3 linked regions of the Homo sapiens genome follow. The protein of the gene in region 1 purifies or fractionates together with the protein of each later gene. This does not show direct contact. Each region holds a gene or a part of one and is shown on either strand. Other genes may lie near its edges. The genes, in order: UCP2, ALDH3A1 and PIGR.

Evidence for each region.
Region 2: the proteins of UCP2 (region 1) and ALDH3A1 purify together in Homo sapiens (affinity purification with mass spectrometry; 2 studies listed by BioGRID and IntAct, with this or other methods). This does not show direct contact.
Region 3: the proteins of UCP2 (region 1) and PIGR purify together in Homo sapiens (affinity purification with mass spectrometry; 2 studies listed by BioGRID and IntAct, with this or other methods). This does not show direct contact.

Annotation. Positions count from the first base shown.
Region 1 is NC_000011.10:73,974,055-73,977,039, reverse strand, and holds the end of UCP2 (dicarboxylate carrier SLC25A8), read left to right. Parts: intron 1-22; coding exon 23-217; intron 218-297; coding exon 298-399; intron 400-1,368; coding exon 1,369-1,549; intron 1,550-1,918; coding exon 1,919-2,033; 3' UTR 2,034-2,368; downstream 2,369-2,985. UniProt on the Homo sapiens protein: Antiporter that exports dicarboxylate intermediates of the Krebs cycle in exchange for phosphate plus a proton across the inner membrane of mitochondria, a process driven by mitochondrial motive force with an overall impact on glycolysis, glutaminolysis and glutathione-dependent redox balance.
Region 2 is NC_000017.11:19,741,676-19,745,324, reverse strand, and holds part of ALDH3A1 (aldehyde dehydrogenase, dimeric NADP-preferring), read left to right. Parts: exon of another isoform or gene 1-190; 5' UTR 191-195; coding exon 196-357; exon of another isoform or gene 358-1,755; intron 1,756-1,861; coding exon 1,862-2,093; coding exon of another isoform or gene 2,094-2,694; coding exon 2,695-2,780; intron 2,781-3,112; coding exon 3,113-3,321; intron 3,322-3,649. UniProt on the Homo sapiens protein: ALDHs play a major role in the detoxification of alcohol-derived acetaldehyde. They are involved in the metabolism of corticosteroids, biogenic amines, neurotransmitters, and lipid peroxidation.
Region 3 is NC_000001.11:206,939,842-206,943,490, forward strand, and holds part of PIGR (polymeric immunoglobulin receptor precursor), read right to left. Parts: intron 744-3,649; 5' UTR 691-743; coding exon 648-690; intron 1-647.

The sequences.
Region 1 (2,985 bases):
TGACCCCATGGCTCGCCCACAGATGCCAGCATTGGGAGCCGCCTCCTAGCAGGCAGCACCACAGGTGCCCTGGCTGTGGCTGTGGCCCAGCCCACGGATGTGGTAAAGGTCCGATTCCAAGCTCAGGCCCGGGCTGGAGGTGGTCGGAGATACCAAAGCACCGTCAATGCCTACAAGACCATTGCCCGAGAGGAAGGGTTCCGGGGCCTCTGGAAAGGTGTGTACCAGTTGTTTTCCCTTCCCCTTTTCCTCCTCCCCGATACTCTGGTCTCACCCAGGATCTTCCTCCTCCTACAGGGACCTCTCCCAATGTTGCTCGTAATGCCATTGTCAACTGTGCTGAGCTGGTGACCTATGACCTCATCAAGGATGCCCTCCTGAAAGCCAACCTCATGACAGGTGAGTCATGAGGTAGACGGTGCTGGGTCTCACCCTTCCCCCATGCCAGGAGCAGGTGCGGGGGTCTAGCTGACACCAGAAGACCACATCTTTTCATCCTATTTGCCCTTTGCAGGGAGAGTAAGATATCTCTTACTTGCCATATTGAAGCCAATTGGGATGAAGCTCCCACTTTGCACATTGAGGAACTGAGGCTAGATTGGCAAAATGACTCTTTCAGGTCCTCAGAAGATGTCTCAGCTGGAGTCCCTGTCTGTTTTTGTTTTTTTGTTTGTTTGTTTTTTGTTTTTTTTGAGATAGAGTCTCACTCTGTTACCCGTGTAATCTCAGCTCACTGCAACCTTCTCCTCCTGGGTTCAAGCGATTCTTGTGCCTCAGCCTCCCGAGTAGCTGGGATGACAGGTGTGCACCAGCACACTGGCTAATTTTTGTATTTTTAGTAGAGATGGAGTTTCACCATGTTAGCCAGGCTGGTCTCGAACTCCTGGCCTCAAGTGATCTGCCCACCTTGGCCTCCCAATGTGCTGGGATTACAGGTGTGAGCCTCTGCGCCCCATCCTCTTGTTTGTTTTTTGAGACAGGGTCTTGCTCGGTTGCCCAGGCTGGAGTGCAGTGGGGTGATTAATGGCTCATTGCAGCCTCGACCTCCCTGACTCAAGCAATCCTCCCACCTCAGCCTCCTGAGTAGCTGGGGCTGACTACAGGCATGCACACTGTGCCTGGCTAATTTTTGTATTTTGTAGAGACAGGGTTTTTGCCATGTTACCCAGTCTGGTCTTGAACTCCTGGGCTCAAGTGATCCACCCACCTCGGCCTCCAAAAGAAGTCCTGGATTACAGGCATGAGACATTGTGCCCAGCCTCTCTGTCTCTTTAAAATCATGAAAACTCGTAGCTACTTAAGTAATTCTCCTGCCTTCTGGAATGATGGGTGAAGATCTTGACTGCCTTGCCTGCTCCTCCTTGGCAGATGACCTCCCTTGCCACTTCACTTCTGCCTTTGGGGCAGGCTTCTGCACCACTGTCATCGCCTCCCCTGTAGACGTGGTCAAGACGAGATACATGAACTCTGCCCTGGGCCAGTACAGTAGCGCTGGCCACTGTGCCCTTACCATGCTCCAGAAGGAGGGGCCCCGAGCCTTCTACAAAGGGTGAGCCTCTGGTCCTCCCCACCCAGTTCAGGCCTCTTGGCTATGCATGTCTATTGTGGGTGGGAGAGAACCACCTGGAAGTGAGTAGCAGCCAAGTGTGACTATTTCTGATCCTGGTCCTGGCATTTCACCAGCATTCACCTATCCCCTTAATTCCTTCCTCCCAGAATTGCTACCATCACTGTTTATTAGGTGTTAAATGGAGACTCAAAGGGAATTCATGCTTATAGCCAAGCAGCTGTGAGCTCAGTTCATTGAGTCCTCCCAGCCTCCTTTGGGACAGAGCAACTGGGTTGGATTGAATACCAGGCCCAGTGAGGGAAGTGGGAGGTGGAGGTGCCCCCATGACCTGTGATTTTTCTCCTCTAGGTTCATGCCCTCCTTTCTCCGCTTGGGTTCCTGGAACGTGGTGATGTTCGTCACCTATGAGCAGCTGAAACGAGCCCTCATGGCTGCCTGCACTTCCCGAGAGGCTCCCTTCTGAGCCTCTCCTGCTGCTGACCTGATCACCTCTGGCTTTGTCTCTAGCCGGGCCATGCTTTCCTTTTCTTCCTTCTTTCTCTTCCCTCCTTCCCTTCTCTCCTTCCCTCTTTCCCCACCTCTTCCTTCCGCTCCTTTACCTACCACCTTCCCTCTTTCTACATTCTCATCTACTCATTGTCTCAGTGCTGGTGGAGTTGACATTTGACAGTGTGGGAGGCCTCGTACCAGCCAGGATCCCAAGCGTCCCGTCCCTTGGAAAGTTCAGCCAGAATCTTCGTCCTGCCCCCGACAGCCCAGCCTAGCCCACTTGTCATCCATAAAGCAAGCTCAACCTTGGCGTCTCCTCCCTCTCTTGTAGCTCTTACCAGAGGTCTTGGTCCAATGGCCTTTTTGGTACCTGGTGGGCAGGGGAGGAACCACCTGACTTTGAAAATGGGTGTGATCCACCTTCCACCTCCAGCATCCAATCTGAAGCCCGTGTAGGTCATCTGGTCCATTTCTCTCTAGACCCAGGCCCTGTACTAACATGGGGAGTGCAGGAGCCACCTGAGAGACAGCAGTGCCTCCCCTTCCTTTGCCGGGCCACTTGAGCTCTTACTCAGAATCTGGTACTCTAGTGCCTGCCATCCCAACCCCCCACCCCAGCCGCAGGCCTGTTTATCTGCACAACAAGAGTGCTCCTGTGTGCCCTGCATCTCCTGCAGTTCCAGAGGAACATGAGACTCTTAGATGCTGTTGACTTTATTTTATTCCATTTTACAAATGGAAGGAAGACCCACCTCCCCCAAAGTCCCAGACCTTGTGAGAACAAGTCAGTCAGCCTCCTTCCACCCTCCACAGCCACAGCCACACCCACAGAGGAAATGTTACTGAACTGGGTGGAGCAGGCCCTGACTCCACAGAGGGTGGGTGGAGGCTGCAGGGCAAACATCTGGTCTCTGCCTGAGGATACT
Region 2 (3,649 bases), on another chromosome or scaffold:
AGGCAGCCAGGGCCCAGGCGTCTGAGTGAGGGGCGGGAGAGGAGGCGAGGCAGAAAGTGGACCTTCCAGCGGAAAGGCCATTTTCCCCAAGGCCGAGCCCAGGGAAGTCCCTTCCTATAGAATTCAGGCAGGGTGGGAGGCAGGGCGCGCTCGTGCCCCTCAGCCAGCTGCAGGTGCTCTCTGTCCCCAGGCGCCATGAGCAAGATCAGCGAGGCCGTGAAGCGCGCCCGCGCCGCCTTCAGCTCGGGCAGGACCCGTCCGCTGCAGTTCCGGATCCAGCAGCTGGAGGCGCTGCAGCGCCTGATCCAGGAGCAGGAGCAGGAGCTGGTGGGCGCGCTGGCCGCAGACCTGCACAAGGTGCTCAGGCTGGGCGGCCGCCTTCTGCCAGTGTCGGGGCCATGCGATGGGGCGTGGGGGGAGGGGCTGGGGAGAGTGCGACCCAGAGAGGTTCAGGAAGGACTTGGGGCCACCTGGCCCCTCGGTCGCGGAGACTGGGCGCACCGCCCTCCCCTCCGCCGCGCCCCGCGCGCCCCCGCCGCCTCTTCCGCCCTCTGGCCTTTTCCTCCTGGCCCGGCCTCCGCGTCCCGCCCGCAGCGTCCCCCATTTCAACTTCCTGCTGCCCCGACACCCTGAACTTCTGGTCCTCCCCATTCCTCAGCCCCACGCAGGACCACTTGGTTCTCCACACCAGGAACCAGAGCAGCTTGGCACCCCGGAGGGCATGGGGGGCTCTCCCCTCCCTCCCAGTTCTCACAGGGGCTGTTCCGTCCCTCACCCTGAGCAAGACCAGACACCTCTGCATTCGCAGCCCCCTGCTGTCCCCACATGCTGCCTGGGGTCCAGCGCTCCGGAGCCCATCCTCCCACCGACTACCCTCTTTGCTCCTGCACTTTTATTTTTATTTTATTTTATTTATTTATTTGAGACAGAGTCTCGCTCTGTCGCCCAGGCTGGAGTGTAATGGCGCGATCTCGGCTCACTGCAACCTCCGCCTCCCGGGTTCAGGCAATTCTCCTGCCTCAGCCTCCCCAGTAGCTGGGACAACAGGCGTGTACCACCATGCCCGGCTAATTTTGTATTTTTAGTAGAGACAGGGTTTCGCCATGTTGGACAGGCTGGTCTTGAACTCCTGCCCTCAGGAGTTCCTCAGGAGGAGTTCTCGGCCTCTCAGAGTGCTGGGATTACAGGCATGAGCCACAGCGCCGGGCCTGCTACTGCACTTTTCAAGAAATGGCTCAGGACTTCTCATCTTAAACCAGAAACAACAAGGAAACCCATTCTGTTGACTTTACAGCTTCTGTGTTGCTCTTCACAGCCCAAGTTTATAAAAGAGACGCGTTTTCCGCCGTCTGCATCTCCTCTTCTCACCCCTGCTCCCCACAGGAGGCCCTGAGCGCCCAGCAGCCCTTGGTCCTGCATCCCCCTCCAGACAACTAAAGGGCCTGGCTCCCTCCACCCTGCCCGGATCCAGCTCCCAGTGCCCGAATCTATCCCCCCTCCCCGGATCCATCCCCCCCTCCCCGGATCCATTCCCACTGCCTGAATCTACTCTCCCCTGCCCGGCTCTATTCCCCCTACCTGGATCCATTCCGTTGCCCATGCCTGGTCCCTTCACCGGCTCTCTCCCCTGGGGCCGCAAACCTACCTGGGCCCCCCTCTGGCAGAAAGGGGTCCTCTCAGACCCACAGGTCCAACGGCTAATCCTGGCTCTGCTTCCCCTGGGAGCCTTCTGCGGCTGCCCCCACCCTGGGCTGGGTGAGTGACCCCCATCACCCTGGCAGCTGAGCAGTGGGGCTCCCCACTCGCCCCAGCTGCAGGCGGGCCCTGGCCCTGGAAGCTCACTCCGGCTCTGTCGCTGCAGAATGAATGGAACGCCTACTATGAGGAGGTGGTGTACGTCCTAGAGGAGATCGAGTACATGATCCAGAAGCTCCCTGAGTGGGCCGCGGATGAGCCCGTGGAGAAGACGCCCCAGACTCAGCAGGACGAGCTCTACATCCACTCGGAGCCACTGGGCGTGGTCCTCGTCATTGGCACCTGGAACTACCCCTTCAACCTCACCATCCAGCCCATGGTGGGCGCCATCGCTGCAGGTGCATGGCCCTGTGGGAAGGGAAGCTGGGGGAGCACCGTCCCCCAGCGTGGAGCCAAGCCAGGATGGGCTCAGGCCTGTGTTAAGAGTCCTGGGGTCAGATAAGGGTTTGCTGGGTCTGTCACAGGAGGCTGTGGGGACCAAGCTGTTTAGCCAGGCCTCTTGGTGCCTGAGGTCCAGTCAGGCTCAGGTGTCCACACCTGGTGATACAGAGAGGGCCTGCCTTCCCCCACCCCTGTTGGGGGGCTGGAGCTTCTGTCACCTAATATGCATCAGGGCTTCCTTCCTAGAATGGGCCAGCGCTGTTCTACCAACCGGGCCCCCAGAGCCTCTCTCCCCTTTCTGCTTTTCCTCCAACATCTCAGCAACTCAGAGGGCCAGGTGGTGCAGCTCTGGCCAGCGTGTGCCCGTGTGTGTCCCTCTGTCATGTGCCCGTGCGTGCTCCTGGGTGTGCCCCGTGACATGTGCTTGTTTGCTAACAACTCTTCCATCCACTGTCCCGAGGACACACAATGGAGGGGAGGCTTCAGGTGTGGTCCTTGGGAGGGCAGAGCCTCTGGTGAAGTACCCTGGGCATAGGCCTGGCTCGGTGTGCTCTGCAGGGAACTCAGTGGTCCTCAAGCCCTCGGAGCTGAGTGAGAACATGGCGAGCCTGCTGGCTACCATCATCCCCCAGTACCTGGACAAGGTGAGTTGCCCTCCAGGGCCTCGTAACTCCATGGCCTCATAACTGAGCTAGGGCCAGGTCTTTGGGGGGTGAGAAATAGTGAATTCTTGCAGCAAGGGGCCAAGCTACTGGTGGGGCTGAGGATTGTTCTTAGCAGCTGCCCTCTCTCATTGGGGTGAACAGAGCCCCTGGGCCAGGAAAGGCGGTCTACTGCCAGTTACTGCTACCCCCCGCCCAAGGTGGGGTGCTGAGCTTCGGGGCTGCTGGTCTTGGCCACTGCAACTCACCCACACTTGCAAGAGCGAGGAGGGGCTTGGTCTTTGCTGAGCCTCCCCTCTCTCCTTGCATGGAAGGATCTGTACCCAGTAATCAATGGGGGTGTCCCTGAGACCACGGAGCTGCTCAAGGAGAGGTTCGACCATATCCTGTACACGGGCAGCACGGGGGTGGGGAAGATCATCATGACGGCTGCTGCCAAGCACCTGACCCCTGTCACGCTGGAGCTGGGAGGGAAGAGTCCCTGCTACGTGGACAAGAACTGTGACCTGGACGTGGCCTGCCGGTGAGAGGCACGGGCCTGCTGGCTGCAGCAGTCCTTACTCTGCTTTCCAAGCACACATGACTGCACCTCATGCTGTGGGTCCACTCTGAGTAACACAGACACCCCCTGCCTCATGGAGCAGTGGTCCTTGCAGAAACTTACATGGGGGTAGGGGTGGGGACCACATGCACAGAAGACGTGTGGGGAGTCCCAGAAGGCTTCCTGGAGGGGGAGAGGTCTAGGCTGAGCTCTGTTTGCTGAGTGCGCATCACTGGGGAAGTGGTACTCCAAGCAGAGGCTGCAGAAAAAGCAGCTGTGGGACGTTCAGGACACAAGGAACTGTACTGGG
Region 3 (3,649 bases), on another chromosome or scaffold:
TCAGCCTCCCAAGTAGTTGGGACTACAGGTGCATGCTAGCTAATTTTGGTTTCTATTTAGTAGAGACAAGGTTTCTCCATGTTGGCCAGGCTGGTCTTGAGCTACTGACCTCAAGCAATCCACCCTCCTTGGCCTCCCAAAGTGCTGGCATTACAGCTGTGAGCCAGCATCCAGCCATCCATTGTTTTTTCAAACAATAACACCACTTTCGTAAGGTGTTACATGTTTGCACTTGCCATGTGTTATTTCCTTATATTTCTAAAAGCACTTTGTAGATGATTTTCTTTTCTTTTTTTTCCCCCAGATAAAAATATTGAGAGCCAGAAAGGATAAGTGACTTCCCTCAGATTTCACAGCGGGTCATAGAGATGCTTGGTTGAAGTTAAGGTCTTTGTTATTCTCAAAGAAGATCTTTCACAGACCCCTGGCCTTGAGATTAGGAAGTGCCATTCCTGTCCCTGACTTCCAATGCTCACAGATGTGGCCTTTCAGTGTCTTCTCTGTATGACTCTTCCTCAAGGAAGTGCCAACTTTGAGAGGGACATCCCTGGGGATGAGTCTGATTTTAGTGTCCCCAGGGAGGTGAACCCTGGAGTCGGGCAGGCTGAAGGGGTGGAGCTTGGAGAGTTGGGGCCTGGCAGACACACCTGGGAAGACCGCCAGCAGGCAGGTGAGCACGAAGAGCAGCATTGCTGGTGGGTCCCGAGCGCCGCACCACTCAGGCCGACTTCTCCTGTGCAATGCTGAAAAACAATAATCACAAGGAGATGAAGCGCCCCTTGTCTTCCAAGACTAGTTGACCTTAGAGTTTCTGTGACATCTATTTGGCTTTGTATCTCCAGCAACTGACATAAATCCTGTTGAATGAATCAGTGCCTCCACTTTTTCCATAACAATTCAAAGTCTTATCATCCTTCAACACTTGTATATCCTTAATAGCTAGAAGTAGCTTTTGTCTTCTCAACTAAGCTGCAAGCTCCTTTGGGATAGAGATATTGTGTCATTTGCTCTGTTTCCCTGCCCATGAGACACAGTCCCAGGCACACCGTAAGATCTCAGGAATGGCTTGCTGGGTGATTGGTTCCTACCAATACGTGGCCCCCATCTCTCTGTTTCAGCTGCCCTCCCTACATTCCTGGGAGGTGAAGCGGGCTGACATATTTCACAGTGTGTTCAGATGAGGAAACTGAGACCCACAGAGGAGGTGTCATGATTATTAAGGCTGTAAATGTAATGATGATGGTCCTAACCCCATTGATTGCTCCCTTATTCTGTCTCAGGCACTGTGTTGAATAATTTATGTGTACTATCTCATACAGACTTGATATCAGCCCTGTGAGGTTAGTATCCTTATCCACATTCACATGGGAGGAAATGAAGGCTTCAAGGTTAAGTACTTTCCTCAAGGGCACATGGGGTTAAATGTGTGGGGGTACACAGAATGGGGGTCGGGGAAGATTTGGGCCCACCTTTGTCTGACTGCAAAGTCCATGTGCTTAACCTCTCCACTACTGTATCGCACCCCAAATACAAGAGCATGCTTTTACCTTATGCTTATTTGTGTTATTTGTAGAGACCCTGTTGCTTATGAAAGCACTACCATTTACATTATTTCATTTGAGCTTTATATGTTCCCTTGAAATAAGACAGACGGGTATAATCACAACCATTTTATGGATAAAACATTGAGGTCTTGAGATGCTGAATGATAGGCTTACGTTTTCCCAGCAACTTGGTTATGGAATTGGGGTTAAAAGCTTAGGTGTTAGGGTCTTTGTAATCCTGCCTGGTAAGGCCTGGCAGACAAAGATGAAGAATCGAAGATGAGACCACTCAGACGGAGCAGCCTGTGTGGACTTTGTCTCCACCGTGGACACAGCCCAGGGCTGAGGAGAGTTGAGGGTCCCAGGGGTCTGCCTGACAGCAGCTGTCATCAAGACCCCAACTACAGCCTAGAGGAGGAGACAGAAGTCTCCACTTTCCCAGACTTTGACAGACTTTAAACTTTGGAGTTGTCTTGACAAAGAGAGTGTTAAATGATCGTAAGTTTGGGCAGTAATGAGTGCCCATAAAGATAAGGACGCTGTAAGCAGGAGGAAGCTGGGCGTTATCTCCCAGACCTCCCTCACCACCCTGGCCCCTGCTCCTGCTCCCAGACTCCCTTCACCAGCTTGAGCCAAAGGCAATAGAGTTGTTTATCTTGGTTATTTCTTTGTTGCAGGGGAATTTCCCAGCAAGGAACCTTTTATTTCCTTGTGAATATAAAGGTATTTTGTTTCTGCAGTTCTTTGGAAGAATAAAGGGAGGGAGTGGGAACAAATATGGGTGTCAGATGGCAACGTTGAGGCTCTCTTGAGTCCGGTTAATTGCCCCAGACCTTTCTTACCAGGTCAATGATTAATGCCTGGAGTGGGGCCTTGGCCAAATACCAGTCAGCTCCAACATGGAAGCAATCAGGGGACACTAGCTGGGATGTCATCACCTGCGTGGGCACTGCAAGCTGCCATGGGAGATGCTCCCAGGTGGGAGCAGCTTTCAGGAGGCCAGGAAGTCTCAGAAACAGTTGGGATGGGCTGGCTGCAAAGTCCTGGGAGATCTACCATTTTCTACTTGTGCTGGCACAGGGTGGGTGCAGTCACAGGTGGGAGGACAAAATGCTGCCTGCTTTTAAGAACCCACACCAGCAGCAGCTGTCCTTGCTTCTTGTTCCTGTCCTCACCTCTAGATAAGCAAGCTGCCTCATATTTGCGTGAGACAGGAGTGGTCTTCCCACAAGCTGAGCTGGGGGATGCAGCCCTCCTCTGGACTTGGCCTGGGTTGCAGAGAGTCAGATGCCAGCTTCTCCAAGGTGAAGACCACCCTGACCTCTGTCCCAGACTTCTCATTTTGTGACATGTTTGGGTGGCTGTGCATGTTTGTGTAGAGAGGGGACATGTGTGTGCACCCATTACCCTCTGCATGGTCTCAAGCCAGGGATGAGAGCATCAGGCATGCACAGGCAGGTCGGGCAGATGGCAACATCAGCGGGATGCACACAGTCCAGTCCTAGATGGGATGATTGGCAGGAGAGGATACCCCTGCTTTCAGGAACAGGAGCTCTTCTTTGCCCAAAGCTAAAACTTGAAGCACAATTTCTCTAGTAGCATTTGAAAGGACCTCGAGCTTTCAGAATCATTACAGACCCCTTCCTCTCAAAACCAGAGACTTTCTTCCAAACCTGGGGATTCAAATCTCGGGAGACCTCCCCAGCCCAGGGTGGCTGGGGCTGGATTTAAAGGATTTGCTTAAGGAAGGAAGAAAAAGAACATAATGTTGGGCACCTGCTACGTGCCAAATGCTTTGCTAGGTTCTTTTCTTGTAAGACTTCATCCATCAGCACAACAACCCAAGAGATAGATGTTGTTATCCTCATGACACAGGTTGGAAATCTAAGGGTTATAGGGATTCTCGACCCCAAGACCCACAGCAGAATCCTAATTTGAGGTCACTACCCCATTATCACTCTTTAAATGAGCAAAGGGACCTGCTTTATTGGGTTTTATATATATGATATTATATCATGCATGAGGGCACGTTTTCTGGTCCTTAAACTAGCAGTTGTTTTTTCACTGCTGAGGCTAGGATGTGCTAGATCATTTTCAGTTTACTA